Homo sapiens: one gene and its partners. The protein of the gene in region 1 purifies or fractionates together with the protein of each later gene. This does not show direct contact. Each region holds a gene or a part of one and is shown in the gene's direction. Other genes may lie near its edges.

Region 1 (3,500 bases):
GAAATAAACATGTATTAAAGTTCTACCCTCTGTACAGGGGCACCTCAGGTCATGTTGTGGAGTAGGAAAAAGGAATAAATTGAGTGAAGGACTTTAGTACCTCTAAGAACTCATGTACTGGCCAGGTGCAGTGGCTCATGCCTGTAATCCCAGCACTTTGGGAGGCCAAGGTGGGCGGATCACTTCAAGTCAGGAGTTAGACACCATCCTGACCAACATGGAGAAACCCCATCTCTACAAAACATACAAAATTAGCCAGGCATGGTGGTGCATGCCTGTAATCCCAGCTACCCGGGAGGCTGAGGCAGGAGAATCGCTTGGACCTGGGAGGCAGAGGTTGTGGTGAGCCGAGATTTGCCATTGCACTCCAACCTGGGCAATAAGAGTGAAACTCCGTCAAAACAAAAAAAAAAAAAAAAAGAGGAATACAGGTAGAGGCACATAAGGATTCATATCATTCAGATAATTTAGGTAGGAGGACTCCCCAGTCATTGCGTCTCTCCCCTCTTCTCCAACTTTCAGAATCTAAGATCAGCAGAAGCAGCAGGCTGTGCAGCTCCAATACTACTCCCGTGACCCCTGCCCTCCCTGGGCCCCCGAGGTCACTCTCCCTTAACGCTTATCTCTTGTTCCTACTAGTTTTTCGTCTGCCTACACACAGAGGACACCTACCCTTCCTGTCTACTTCTGTTGCTCTGCTCCTTTCTGATTCATTGCTTCTGCTTCCCACCCGTACTGCAAAGCTTAGCCATTTAAGGAAGCCAGACTCCCCAGAACACTGCTTAAGTGCTTACAGTTATATTAAATAGAAAAATAAAAGAATCAATGAAGATGCTCAAAGAGGAACGTGTACTTTGCACATATCATAGTGGACTTGTCCTAGGAGAATCAGAACTCTAGCCGAACTCATGTAATCCTTAAAGCTCGTGCTGTGATTATTGATTAAAAGAGAACAGCTGAGACCTTTGACACTTCAGAGGCCAGTGGTCTGTGCAGTCAGTCTGGCTTCTCTAACAGGGAAAGGCATGTAAGGAAAAGGAAATGAGACAGCCTGGGACACAAGTTCAAGTATGAACAATACTATCACATGTTCCATAGTGCCTATCAAACAAGTGTATGTCGTCATATTAGTCGCCTCCTTAGCCTCTGGCCCTCCCATAATACTCAAAGCCATCTGGCTATCTGCTCTTATTTGCAAGTAATCAGGAAAAGTAAAGTAAGAGGGTTGATAATATGAGCTTTGTGAACCCCAACTATCTCCATGTGCTTCAGCTCTGACCAGGAGAGAGCAACGTGGGAGGTGAGGTCTATTCGAAGTTGCCAGACTTGACCAGTTAACAGTGCAACGGTTTGAAGAACAATGACTCTAGCCCTTTAGAGGTTAAAGGCTATTGGGTAGATGTGTAGGCGTCTGCTCAGATCACATTCATAATAAACTTGCAATTCCATGACTCCATTATGCTGTATGATTTGACCCAAGGCATCAGAATCAAAGAGACCCATCAGATGCCTGAGGCAGAGATCAAAACAGGCAAAGTAGAAAAAGGACTCTCTAAGAAATGAGTTATCATCATCAGAGCTCCTGGTTCTATATCCAGTTGATGCCAGGCTTTCCTTGCAAATGGGTAGTGAGAGGACAACTACAACAATGTAGACTCACCCACAACCCCTTCTGCTGCTCACCACCCAGCATCCATCTGTGAGGTTTCTGAGCAGTGAGCCATTTGAGGTTTTAAATTTCATTTTACGTACAATTTTATCACTGAGATTTTTTTTTCTAAAATAAAGAAGCATTTAATTTTTTTCTCTCTTCAGCTGTTAGCACATTTAAGTTAGTTCCTGCTTTTTTTGTTTAGGTGGTTTTTGTTCATGATGATTTTTCTTCTCTTGCTCATTGGGATATAAGTGGAATATATAATTTTTTTTTAATGTTAGGATTTGTTGTTGTGCAGAGAAAAAAGGTAAAGGTCAAATGATCAAAGGCATTTGTTGATGACCCAGAAGAACGTTCAGATTTAAGCATTATTACAAGAGATCGTCTAATGCTAAGCGTAATTTTACTTGACATGTGGCAATTAATGTGTCAAGCAAAATGCTGCTTACCATTACTAGTCATTACTTTATTGTGGAAAGACAGCAGTCCCTTGGTATCCGCATGGGATTTGTTCCAGAACCACCGCACCACATATCAAAATCCACGCATACTTACATCCCACATTTGGCTCTGCAGAACTTCCCTCTAGGAAAAGTTGGTCCTCCTCATCCTCAGGTTTTTGGATCCGGTGAACACGGTATTTTCAATACTCACTTGGTTGTGGATGCAGAACCCACAGATACCAAGGGCCAACTGTACTTATCGAAAAATATCCACATGTAAGTGGACCCACACAGTTCAAATTTGTGTTTCTCAAGGATTAGCTATATTTATTGCGTGCTTGAAAACCAAGCAGGTAGGATGGTATTGTAGACAAAGCACAGGCTCACTTTTTTTTTGTTGCTATTTTTATGATCTTCACTTAGTATAAGAGTTTCTGTCAAAAACTGCAGCCTCCAGTACCAGTAGCAAAGCATTTCTAAAAGGTTTTGACTAAGGTACTTAATCAGTGCATGGCCCGATGCACTACATGTATGAATTTCATCTTTACTACATTAGATTTCTACCAATTGTATATAAATAGCCTAGTATGCTTAGTTAGGACAATATGTTTAATATTGGGGATGATCCTAAGAAATTATAGATTTCTCAATATGGTATTCTAATTAAAACCTAATTAGCAATTCACTGTGCTAGAACTTGGATTTTTTTCACATAGAAATAATTTCACTACGCATAGAAAGTAAAGATGTATTTTTTGGAGACATTAGAATTTCAAAAATATAAGGCAGCACATGTGGAATGTAGAGGTGTTAAAAATCTTAAGTGTGGGTTTCTCTATAGCTCTAAGCTTGAACAGTTTTGTATAATCAGCGAGCTTGCCAAACAGTATCAAAAAACTCATTTTCTTCAAGTGCTTTATTTATCTTTAATAGAACCTTCATCACCCTGGTGTTGTAAATTTGGAGTGTATGTTTGAGACGCCTGAAAGAGTGTTTGTTGTTATGGAAAAACTCCATGGAGACATGCTGGAAATGATCTTGTCAAGTGAAAAGGGCAGGTTGCCAGAGCACATAACGAAGTTTTTAATTACTCAGGTAAGAAATCAATTAGAGACGGAAAAAATACAATATTTAATATCAAATGTTATCACTGTTTAACTACAGCTTTCTAGCCTTGTTGTTTAGTCCCTACCTCCAGTCTAAACTACACTAGAAAAGGTTGTAGTGGCTTTATTGTATTATGTGATTTATATCTATATTAATCAGAGTCCACAGTGTACCAAATTAGTAACATGTTTGCAGGTCCATGTATTCAAACTTTTCATGAAATTTTAAAATGTACATTGGTTTAGTTTTGGTTCTTTGAGAATATTTAAGAATGGGTGTCCCTGTTAGATATAGGT
Region 2 (3,500 bases), on another chromosome or scaffold:
ACAAATAGTTATTGAGCATCCACTATGGGTGAGACACCATTCCAGGAGTAGAAGACATGGCAATGAACAAGACACCAGGTCGCACCCTCATGGAGCTTATGTTTGCAAGGAGCTGGGCACACAGAAGCAGTGAAAACACAGGAGTGAGTCCCTCCCTTCTCATAGGGATTTTTTTTTTTTCTTAAATGGATTCTTAATGGCTGCTGGCATTTACTTTAGAGAGGTGAGGTTTTTCTAGGCAGTTACAGTGATGCGTTTTGACAACCTCCTACTTTGGCAGAGTTCTCAGCATTTCCAGGTCTTGTCGGCTGTACAGGGCAAAGGGTGTGTTAGAGATATTTCCCAACTGGAATGGGAGGCTCCAGCCTCCCTCATTTGTTCCAGGTCACTCCCTGTGATAGACTAAGCTCATATAAGGGCCCAGCCCTGTTCTGAGTCCAAGAGTTATTTTTGTTGATTGTCAAATATTTATTGAGCACCGATTAGGTGCCAGACACTGAGCATAAAATAAAAACAGAAATGAGGCTGTTCATGTGGAGGAAATGAGTCTAATGGGTTCCCCTACACCTCCAGGCCTCATTCACAGGCCCCTTCCTCAGGGAGGCCTCCCCAAACCCACTCCTACCCTCTGTTATTACTCCCATAGCAAGTGGCCATTCCCTTTCTGTGACATCCCTTACACCTCTACTCAATACCTGTCAACCCTATTGAACTGCAGGACCTCTGGGGCTGGAAGCCTGGTTTCCAGTTCTATGCATTGGCTCATAGTTGGTGCTCAATAAGATACTTGCTGACTGCATGGATGAGTGAAACTCCTAAGGCCTCCCAGAGTGACGCAGACCCTTTCCCTAACAGTAAGATGATCTGGAATCAACAGGAATTGGGAACACTAAATTACCAAGTGGCTGATGACGATCGGACTCATTTAGACCTAGTTTTCCCCTTCTCATCATCTGCTGCTTTCCTTCTAACTAGGAAACTTTCTGCTGGGAATGGGTTTAGGGACTGTGATGAAAGAACCCACTGCTCTTCCCTCCAAAGTCTAAGCAAAGTTCAGTCAGATTCTATCAAATGTGGGTTTCCTATCTGTGTCTTTTCCTCATCTGTGCTATCGCTCTTCCCCTTGAGCTCTGATGGCCAGTGGCCAACAGAAAATGATTAACTCCCCCGAGTGCTTTTGCATATATATTTTGATATTTCACCCTTTCTTCCTAGATACTAAAGTCTATGCTGCTTTGGGAAATCATGATTTTCACCCCAAAAACCAGTTCCCAGCTGGAAGTAACAACATCTACAATCAGATAGCAGAACTATGGAAACCCTGGCTTAGTAATGAGTCCATCGCTCTCTTCAAAAAAGGTACCAACACCACCTGCTCCTATCAAGAGCACTTACTGTATGCCAGGGTCTGATCTTCGTCTTCACAACAACCTCTTAGAATAAGTACTGATTTTATCCCCAATTTACAGATAAGGAAGCCAGGGTCATACAGCTTAGAAAAGGCAGTCTTGGGAGCAGACTCCAGAATTAACTCCAAAGCCCTTCCTCTAAACCCCACGACACTGATGATGCTCCTAAGTTCATATTTATTGAGCCTTTACTGTGTGCGAGGCACTGCCCTCTCAGCCTGGTCCTAGACACTTCACAACAACCCTTGGAAGGAGTGGTTTCATTTCCAGCAGGTTTGAACCTTGCCACCACTGACACCATGGGCTGGATAACTCTGTCGCAGACAACTGCCACGTGTGTTGCAGAATGTTGCAAACACTCACTAGAGTGATACCCTCAGGAACACCCCCAGCTGTGACAACCAAAAATGTCTCAGACATTGCCCAGTGTTCTCTTGGGCCAGAAGCACCTGGTTGAGAATGACTGGTTCAGAAACACAGCCAGCCCAAGGTGACTTTGACCCTACTCTTCCCTTTCCTCGGTCTCCTGCTGTTGGGACTCCCCAGTGGTTAAAGCCGACCAGAAGCCTGTGCCACAGAAGCCTGTTGATTTAGTCCACATAGATCAGCTCTTGGAAAAGACAGCTGAGCAGTGAAGGGTCGACAGTGGATCTGGATGGGCAAACACACATCACTGTTAGTCTCACTATGCAGATAAGGAAACCGAAGTATAGAGAGGTGAAGTTACTTTCCCAAGTTGCACAGCGAATGAGTTCCAGAGCCAGGAATTGAATCCAGGCCGCCTGGCTCCAGAGCCTCTGATCTTCCAGATTGATGTCCCACCCATGGGAAAGATGGGAGGGGAAGATGCAACGGAAAAAGAAAGTGGGACATTGAGGTGGAAGGGGCGGAAGCCTGTCTGGCCAGAGGTGGGGGCCTCCTTCATATTGTCCCTGGCTGTGACAGGTGCCTTCTACTGTGAGAAGCTGCCGGGTCCCAGCGGGGCTGGGCGAATTGTGGTCCTCAACACCAATCTGTACTATACCAGCAATGCGCTGACAGCAGACATGGCGGACCCTGGCCAGCAGTTCCAGTGGCTGGAAGATGTGCTGACCGATGCATCCAAAGCTGGGGACATGGTAAGAGGCCCTGCTTCTTTCTTTTCTCATCTGGGGTTATTTCCTGCACAAGTCTCCCGCTTGGCACAAACTCACCCACCCACCCAAAGATGCCCATATCCCAGAGGGTCCTTTATCAGCCCGGCACCAGCAGAGGGCTTCCTCCATCCTCACCACAGCCCTGTGTGCTGGGATCTGGAGCCCACTGCAGATGAGGACCCTGAGGCTCATAAAGAGTGGTGACGGTCCCAAGTCACATAATAAGTGACGAAGCCCAGACTAGAAGACCAGACTCCAAGTCCAGTGCTCTTTCCACTCCCACCACATGCACAGCTGCAGCCAGTACTGTGTGCCAGATCTCCAGGGGATGCCCTGCCCTTGAGTGTGTCCAGCTAGCCTGCTGGCCTGACAGCTCCTCAAGGACTGGCTCAGTGTCTCATTTGCCCAAGTCCTTGCACTGACCAGCCCATCCCAAGAGGATCTCACAGCTGGTGCCCATGAGCATGCACTATGCCAACATTGGGCACGTTGTTTAGGACATTATGCGGATGATCTCAGGTAGCAGAACTATGGAAACCCCGGCTCAGTAGCGAGTCCATCATTCTCAAAACCCCACCAGCTATGTGCTATTCCAGATGAGAAAACAGCAGCTCAGAGAGGTGATACACAGCTGGTGTCTAAGCTGCAGTCTGACTCCAAAACTCATACATTTAACTCTGTCCCCTGTTCTAACTCCTGCCATGGTGGCCAAGTGCCCAGGTGTTGTCAGATGAGTGACTCAAGGAATGTAAGAAACGAATGCACATTACCGTGTAGCATATCACACAACCACGCAAGAATGGTTTCGTTGCAGTGTTCAAGCTCTCCAAGAGAAGAGTAGTCTTTGAAGGATTAGGAAAGCTTCATGGGGGAGGTGCTCTTTGAAGTGTGGGGAGGATTTACAGAAGTGAAAAGGAGAAGGGTACTCCAGGTGGCAGGCACAGAGGTGGGAAGG
Region 3 (3,500 bases), on another chromosome or scaffold:
CCAATAACTGTGTTCTTTGGTTCTCACCACAACCCTATGCACAGAGGAAATGGAAGGCACAAAGTGGTGAAGTTGCTTGCCCAAGACCCCGTAGCTGGTATGTGGCAGAGCATAAATGCAAACCCAGTTCTTCTGGCTCCAGAATCCTGCCCTAGACGATGACACTTTTGATCAGCAGTGGATGCACCCCAAATCATGCCTCTGTTATTGACCAAAGCCTGATCCACTCACCCTTGAGTTTGAGGCCCACTGTGAACCTGCCCAGAAATGCCTACCTCCAAGCCCTTTCTTCCTCCACTGCTCCCACCCAGCCAAAGCAGACAGGCAGCTGCTCCCCCAGAACCACTTCCTACTTCCTCATCACTGCTGATACGGTTCTCCCTTTAGGGATGCTCTTCCCCTAAGATCTGCCTCTAAGATTCCACTCAAGGGAGCCTCCTTGATACCCCAGGTGGAAGGGGTCACTCCTTGAGCACCAAGTCCACCCCCATCACAGGACCCTCTGTGTGACCTTCTAGTATTGTTTATGGTTGTGACCTCACTGCCCTAAGACTGTCTACTTCTGACCCCACAAGGGCTAGCACTGCCCTCAGAAAGCTCAGCCACTGTTTGCTGAATTTAATTAAAAATACATCTCTAATAACCTCTTTGTAAAATAGCTTGGCAGTTTCATAAAAAGTTAAACGTACATCTTCTTCACGAGCCAGCAGTTGTACTCCTAGGTATATTCCTACGGGAAATGAAAGCACATGTCTGCATAAAGGTTCATGTATGAATATTCACAGCAGCATTATTCATAACAGCCAAAACCTGGAAGCTGTCAAGATACCCATCCACTGACGAATGATTCAGCACACTGTGGTATAGTCATAAATGGAATACTACTCAGCCATGAAAAGGAACAAATTCCTGATAAACACCACAACATGAATGAATTGCAAAAGCAGTGCTCTGAGTCCAAGAAGCTGGGCAGAAAGGAGTTGGTGCCCTGATTCCATTTTTCTCAAGTTGTAGAAGAAACAAACTAATCTACGGTAGGAGAAATTCAAATTCAGATTCTCCCCATCCCCACCAGTTACCTCTGGTTGGTGGAGAGGGGGAGAATTGGCAGGAAAGGGGCACAAAGAAACTTTTTGGGGTGATGGAAATATTTTGTACCTTGCTTTAGATGTTGGTCAGATGGAATATACGTTTGTGGAAACCTGCCAAACTGTACATTGAATATCTGTGTGTTTTTACCACATACAGTTAAAACTAAAAAAAAAAAAAAAAAAAAAAAAAAATTGAGTATAAATAAATAGCAAATTTAATTTATTTTTAAAAACTAGTTTTCATTCTGTTACTGTTTCTTTTTCTTCAGTATTCCAGTACCAGTACCCGGAGAGAACATGTCAAAGTTAAAACCAGCTCCCAGCCAGGCTTCCTGGAACGGCTGAGCGAGACCTCGGGTGGGATGTTTGTGGGGCTCATGGCCTTCCTGCTCTCCTTCTACCTAATTTTCACCAATGAGGTAAAATGTCTGGGGTCTTCCTGTGCAGAGTGAGAGTCCCCACCATGTCAGAGAGCAAAGGCGATGAACCCGGAGGCTGGATTTGGTAATCAAGGGCCTAGATTTTAAAAAGAGAAAGGAGGATACTGAGTTAATCACAGTTCTTTCCATTGTGATCCATCCCACAGCTGATGTGAGCAGGAAGGGGAGTAGATCAGTTCACACACCTGAATATCCAGGGGTTAGCACCTGCCTCAGGCGTAGTTGGATCCAGGTGTTCATGCTGGGTCACCAGGAATCTCCATTTCTTCATCTTTTGCCTGTTTTTCTCTATTATGGTGTTTTTCTTGGGCAGGCACTTCATCTGTGATGGCAAATGTGGCCCCAGCAACTGGCCTACATCCAACCACTTAGCCCAGGGAAGAGAAAAACCATCTGTTTCTCTTCCTTTCTTTCTTTTCCTTTCTTTCCCCTCCCTCCCTCCCTCCCTTCCTTTGTTCCTTTCTTCCTTCCTTCCTTTGTCTCTCTCTTTCTCTCTTTCTTGTTTGTTTGTTTCTTTCTTTCTCTCCCTCTCTCTTTCTTTTTCTCCTTTTTTTTAATAGGGCCTCATGATGCAACAGTATATTTCTAAATCAATTTAGCAGCAGTTACAGGGCCATCTCTCAGTGTCCTGGCTTGGCTCTCCGTCCTCTGAATCAGTCTCCGTGTCCAGGGCGCACTCACATGTTCTGACTGGCAAGGTCTGGGTCCCATAATCTGACCAGGGTTCAGATAGACTCAGGTAAACCACATGGGCTGAGTAGGAGAGAGGAGAGCCAGGCATGGAGGCTCAAGCCTGTAACCCCAGCACTTTGGGAGGCCAAGGAGGCAGGATCGCTTGAGGTCAGAAGTTCGAAAGCAGCCTGGGCAACATAGCAAGACCCCATTTCTACAAAAAACTTAAACATAAAAATAAAATTAAAAAAAAGAAGGCAGAGAAAAATGGGGAGAAAGGGACAGGCAGGCAGAAACATCAGCTGTTCCCACCACTGGGGCAGTGCTAAGATTGGTGGGGGCTAGTGGGAACCAATGGGGCAGTAGGAAGAAGTCTCCCTGGGAAAGCAGGAATCTGGGTTCCAGTCCTTACTCTCCACTTGCTAGACCTCAGTTTTCCAACTGTACGGTGGGGAGATGGGTCTCAGCGCTCCCGGAGGCCCCATCCTACCCTAATACTTTGCAACAAGCACAGTCATGCTGAGCCACCCCTGAGCTGTTGAAATCCCCACTCCCCTTTGCTCCCAGGGCCGCGCATTGAAGACGGCAACCTCATTGGCTGAGGGGCTCTCGCTTGTGGTGTCTCCCGACAGCATCCACAGTGTGGCTCCGGAGAATGAAGGAAGGCTGGTGCACATCATTGGCGCCTTACGGACATCCAAGGTAGGTTTGGCAGGGGATGCTGACCTGCCAGTGGCTCGGGGCTCATCCTGGATGTTGTCTGGCTGAGGATTTGAAAGCATGGGCCTTGGAGATGGTCACACATGGGAGTGATTCCCGACTTTACCACTCAGCAGCTGTGTGGACTTGTCTATCCTGAGTCTCAGTGTCTTCGTGTATAAAATGGGGACGGTAATGGTTACAAGCTTGTGGCCAGCCTTGAGGATTTGGTGAGATTAGGTAACTAACGCCTTGGTACAGTGGCTGGCACTCAGGGAGGTGCTCTCATGACTCTGATGACCATGTGTGTCCAGTGCAAGGCCACAAAACTACCCTGGGCACCAGAGCTTTCCTGTTATTTGAACACCCTGTACGCTGTTGGCACCATGCCATTGGGCCATGCAGCCCAGGCCTGTACTGTGAGGGTCACAGTCACAGGCACTGTGTGTAAAGAACCTGGGACAGGGAGTGTCCTCGATTCTCCCCTGCAAAGCAGTGTAGGGCTCTCCACCCTTGTCCCCTTCTCTATTTCTTCCTCTTCCAGTCCAGCTTCCCCTGAGCCAGGCTTTCTGGGCTGACGTGAATGTTATCCTTTATT
Region 4 (3,500 bases), on another chromosome or scaffold:
CTGCAGGTACCAGTTCCACCCGTGGCAACGGCCATCACCCCCCTGGCCACCATACCCCGCCCCAGCTGCCATCATCCCCCAGTCGCCATTGTCGCCCCCCAGCCACCATGTCCCCCAGCCACCACACCCTGGTGACTGTGCTGCCATTTCCCTCAGCTCTCCAGGCACAATAAACAGCTGCAGCACCTGCTGAAGCCGGTGAAGCGCATTCAAGAGGAGGAGGCCGAGGGTATCTCTTCCATGGTGGGTGCTGGCCCCGAGACTGGGGTGGGGGTGGGGCCTGGAACCCAGGGAGGACACTTGACCCAAGGGCGTGGCCTGGAACAGAGTGAGGCCCTAGAATATGAGCCAGGCTAGAATTTGGGGGTACAGCTCAGGGGGCTGATTGGGACTGGCAGCCGTGGGTGAAACCCAGACAGAAATGGAAGCAAGGCTCAGGTGGGTCTAGGGTGGGTCTGGAAGCTTCAAGCAGGACCCGGGCTACACTTGGGCAGGACTGAGGAGGCCCCCGCTATCCTCTGGGATTCTCTGGTCATGGCTCTCCCACTCCCCTCCCTTTGGCACCAGGTTCTCAAGGCTCAGTCCTAGTTGGGCTGGGCTTGGCCTGCTCTGGCTTGGCGGGGACACTCGCTGAAGTGTAGTTCAGAGCTAGGCGAAGGCCTGGGAGGGTGGGGGCTGAGTGCCAGCCTGGATGTGGAGGCTGGGGCCTGACCTCCGCGCCCTCCCCACCTCCAGCTCAGCCTCAACAACAAGCAGCTGTCACAGATGCTCAAGTCCTCAGCGCCAGCACAGGAGGAGGAGGAAGACCCCCTGGCCTACTATGAGAACCACACGTCCCAGATCGAGGTGGGCCTGTGGGCAGCAGGGGCGGGCGTGGGAGCCTGCGCCGGGCGTGACCATGTGCTGTGTGTGCTCAGATTGTGCGGCAGGACCGCAGCATGGAGCAGATCGTGTTCCCAGTGCCCGGCATCTGCCAGTTCCTGACGGAGGAAACCAAGCACCGGCTCTTCACCACTACTGAGCAGGACGAGCAGGGCAGCAAAGTGAGCGACTTCTTCGACCAGTCCTCCTTCCTGCACAACGAGATGGAGTGGCAGCGCAAGCTCCGCAGTGAGGACCCACGGGCGGGAGGGTGGGGCGGTCTGGAGCTGTTCACTGATGCCCTGTTATAACGGCCTCCTTTGCCTGCCTGTGGGTGCCCTGCGCCCAACCCCGCCTCACCCCAAGGAAGGGCTCTTCCATGTGTGGCTTCCTCCTGAGCGGGGCCCCACATGCAAGGGGCAGGGGGTGCTCACCAGGGCCCTCCAGCAGCTCACCGTTGCCCTCCTCTTCAGGCATGCCGCTGATCTACTGGTTCTCCCGCCGCATGACCCTGTGGGGCAGCATCTCCTTCAACCTGGCCGTGTTTATCAACATCATCATTGCCTTCTTCTACCCTTACATGGAGGGCGCGTCCACAGGTGAGAACACAGGGCTGGCCGGCAGGTTCCCCGGGCCCTGCCATGCTTCCTCCCTGGGTTGGGGCAGAGCCTTGAGGCCAGCTGGCCTCTGAGGGCACCAGATGCAGAGTGTGCAGAAGCACCCCCTGCGCCATCCTGTGGGCTCTCGCCCCATCATGGAGACACAGGTGCGGTCAAAGGGGATGGTCAGGGTCTTTGACCTCATGGGAGATGGCGCATGCAGGCACGTGCACACGCATAGATGTGTCAGCCAGAAACAAAACCTGGTAGCCGCAGCCGGACAGGGCCTCCCGCTTAGGCCTGAGAGGCAGGTGTAATGGAGGAGGCTAAAACCAGGCACCAGGAACTTAACCGGGAAGGCGGCCAGGAGAAGGTGGCTTTTCGGCACCTGTTGGACCTGCTCTGGGGCCGTGGTGGGCTTGAGGGAGCCCTGCTCACCCTGCCCCTGGCCCCCAGGCGTGCTGGACTCCCCTCTCATCTCATTGCTCTTCTGGATCCTCATCTGCTTCTCCATCGCGGCCCTGTTCACCAAGCGCTACAGCATCCGCCCCCTCATCGTGGCGCTCATCCTGCGCTCCATCTACTATCTGGGCATCGGGCCCACACTCAACATCCTGGGTGCCCTCAATGTGAGTGCCAGAGGGAGCCCCCATTCCCAAACAAGCTCATGCTCACTGTGCATTCAGACGGCAAGCTGGCCTGCTGCTTCCAGGAGCCACTGCTCTGTCCCATCCCCTCCTCTCTGTTGGGCTCCCAAGTTCCTTATAGACCGGTGGCAGGGACTGTTCTGTACCTTCTTCCTTTCCCTCAACACCTGAGGGCAGCTGGCACTCAGAGACAGAAATTCAAGAGTCCCTTTGGAGCAACAGGGTCAGGGTGGCTGTGCACACTGTGCGGGCTGTGCACTGCCCAGAGGCACTGCTACGCGGCAGACGTGAAGATTCATACATAATGACAATCTCCTGACAGATGGAAATAAAGTGCTTTGAGCGAGGAATACCTTTCCCTGATAGAGCCAGTCAGTGGTCTTCTCTGTCCCCATCCTCCGTTGCCTGTACCTCACTGTCTTCCTGGAACTGAGGACCCAAGGGGCTGCCTCTGTATTCTGAGTCCCAGGCGCCTAGATGCGTTTCTGGAAGCAATTTCATTAATGCCATGCCTCCCAGGCTCTGAGCTGGGCACTGGGGGACATGCGTGCAGATTCAGCATAGGTGGTAGGGTGCTGACTCTCATGCCTTGCACTCGCCCCCAGCTGACCAACAAGATCGTGTTTGTGGTGAGCTTCGTGGGCAACCGTGGCACCTTCATCCGGGGCTATAAGGCCATGGTCATGGACATGGAATTCCTCTACCACGTGGGCTACATCCTGACCAGTGTCCTGGGCCTCTTTGCTCATGAGCTGTTCTACAGCATCCTGGTGAGGCCTTCTGGGTGGGCTGGGGCTGGATGGGGGCATGGGGTGGTTGGGGCTTCCCATGAGTTGTTGGCAGTTCCCCGGCACCAGTCTGTCTGTCCAGTCCTTTTGCTGCTGGGCTGGGAGCAGTGAAATTACAGAGTCTTCATCTGCCTGACCCAAGCCTGGCCCTCAAGGCCCTGATGGCCACTCCTGGTGGCCATCTGACCCCTTTCTCCTGTACAGTGGTGGTTCAAGCCTGGACTCTGGAGCTGGACCAGGGCTTTGCATCTCAGCTGGGCTACTACTAGCTGTGTAACTGGGCAAGTTTCTTAACTGCCCCATGCCTCAGTTTCCTCACCTGTAAAATGGGGATAACAACAGCCCCTGCATTCTAAAATAATTGTGAGATGAAATGAGCTAATGCATGGAAAGCACTTACACTGTTTCCTGGCATGCAGCAAGTACATTTTAAGAGTTGGCTGGTATTCAGCCACCCGTTTCACCCCTCGTGCCTTCCCCTGGGCCACTCCCTTTCTGTGACCTTAGAATTCCAGGTTTCTCGAGAAGCTCCCCTGACAGGCCCACCCAGCTTGGATACGACTAAGTGCAGACCTCCCTGGAGGAGCCTTGGGAAACTGTCTGGA

What was found. Proteins that work in one complex are often made in the same cells at the same time.
Region 2: the proteins of PRKD1 (region 1) and SMPDL3B purify together in Homo sapiens (affinity purification with mass spectrometry; one large-scale study listed by BioGRID and IntAct). This does not show direct contact.
Region 3: the proteins of PRKD1 (region 1) and TMEM43 purify together in Homo sapiens (affinity purification with mass spectrometry; one large-scale study listed by BioGRID and IntAct). This does not show direct contact.
Region 4: the proteins of PRKD1 (region 1) and ITPR3 purify together in Homo sapiens (affinity purification with mass spectrometry; one large-scale study listed by BioGRID and IntAct). This does not show direct contact.

What each region holds. Positions count from the first base shown.
Region 1 is NC_000014.9:29,599,348-29,602,847, reverse strand, and holds part of PRKD1 (serine/threonine-protein kinase D1), read left to right. Parts: intron 1-3,030; coding exon 3,031-3,192; intron 3,193-3,500.
Region 2 is NC_000001.11:27,952,000-27,955,499, forward strand, and holds part of SMPDL3B (acid sphingomyelinase-like phosphodiesterase 3b isoform 1 precursor), read left to right. Parts: intron 1-1,215; coding exon 1,216-1,359; intron 1,360-2,354; coding exon 2,355-2,527; intron 2,528-3,500. UniProt on the Homo sapiens protein: Lipid-modulating phosphodiesterase. Active on the surface of macrophages and dendritic cells and strongly influences macrophage lipid composition and membrane fluidity. Acts as a negative regulator of Toll-like receptor signaling.
Region 3 is NC_000003.12:14,128,052-14,131,551, forward strand, and holds part of TMEM43 (transmembrane protein 43), read left to right. Parts: intron 1-1,360; coding exon 1,361-1,510; intron 1,511-2,770; coding exon 2,771-2,905; intron 2,906-3,500. UniProt on the Homo sapiens protein: May have an important role in maintaining nuclear envelope structure by organizing protein complexes at the inner nuclear membrane. Required for retaining emerin at the inner nuclear membrane.
Region 4 is NC_000006.12:33,687,322-33,690,821, forward strand, and holds part of ITPR3 (inositol 1,4,5-trisphosphate-gated calcium channel ITPR3), read left to right. Parts: coding exon 1-6; intron 7-156; coding exon 157-243; intron 244-735; coding exon 736-846; intron 847-917; coding exon 918-1,110; intron 1,111-1,334; coding exon 1,335-1,460; intron 1,461-1,916; coding exon 1,917-2,089; intron 2,090-2,712; coding exon 2,713-2,877; intron 2,878-3,500.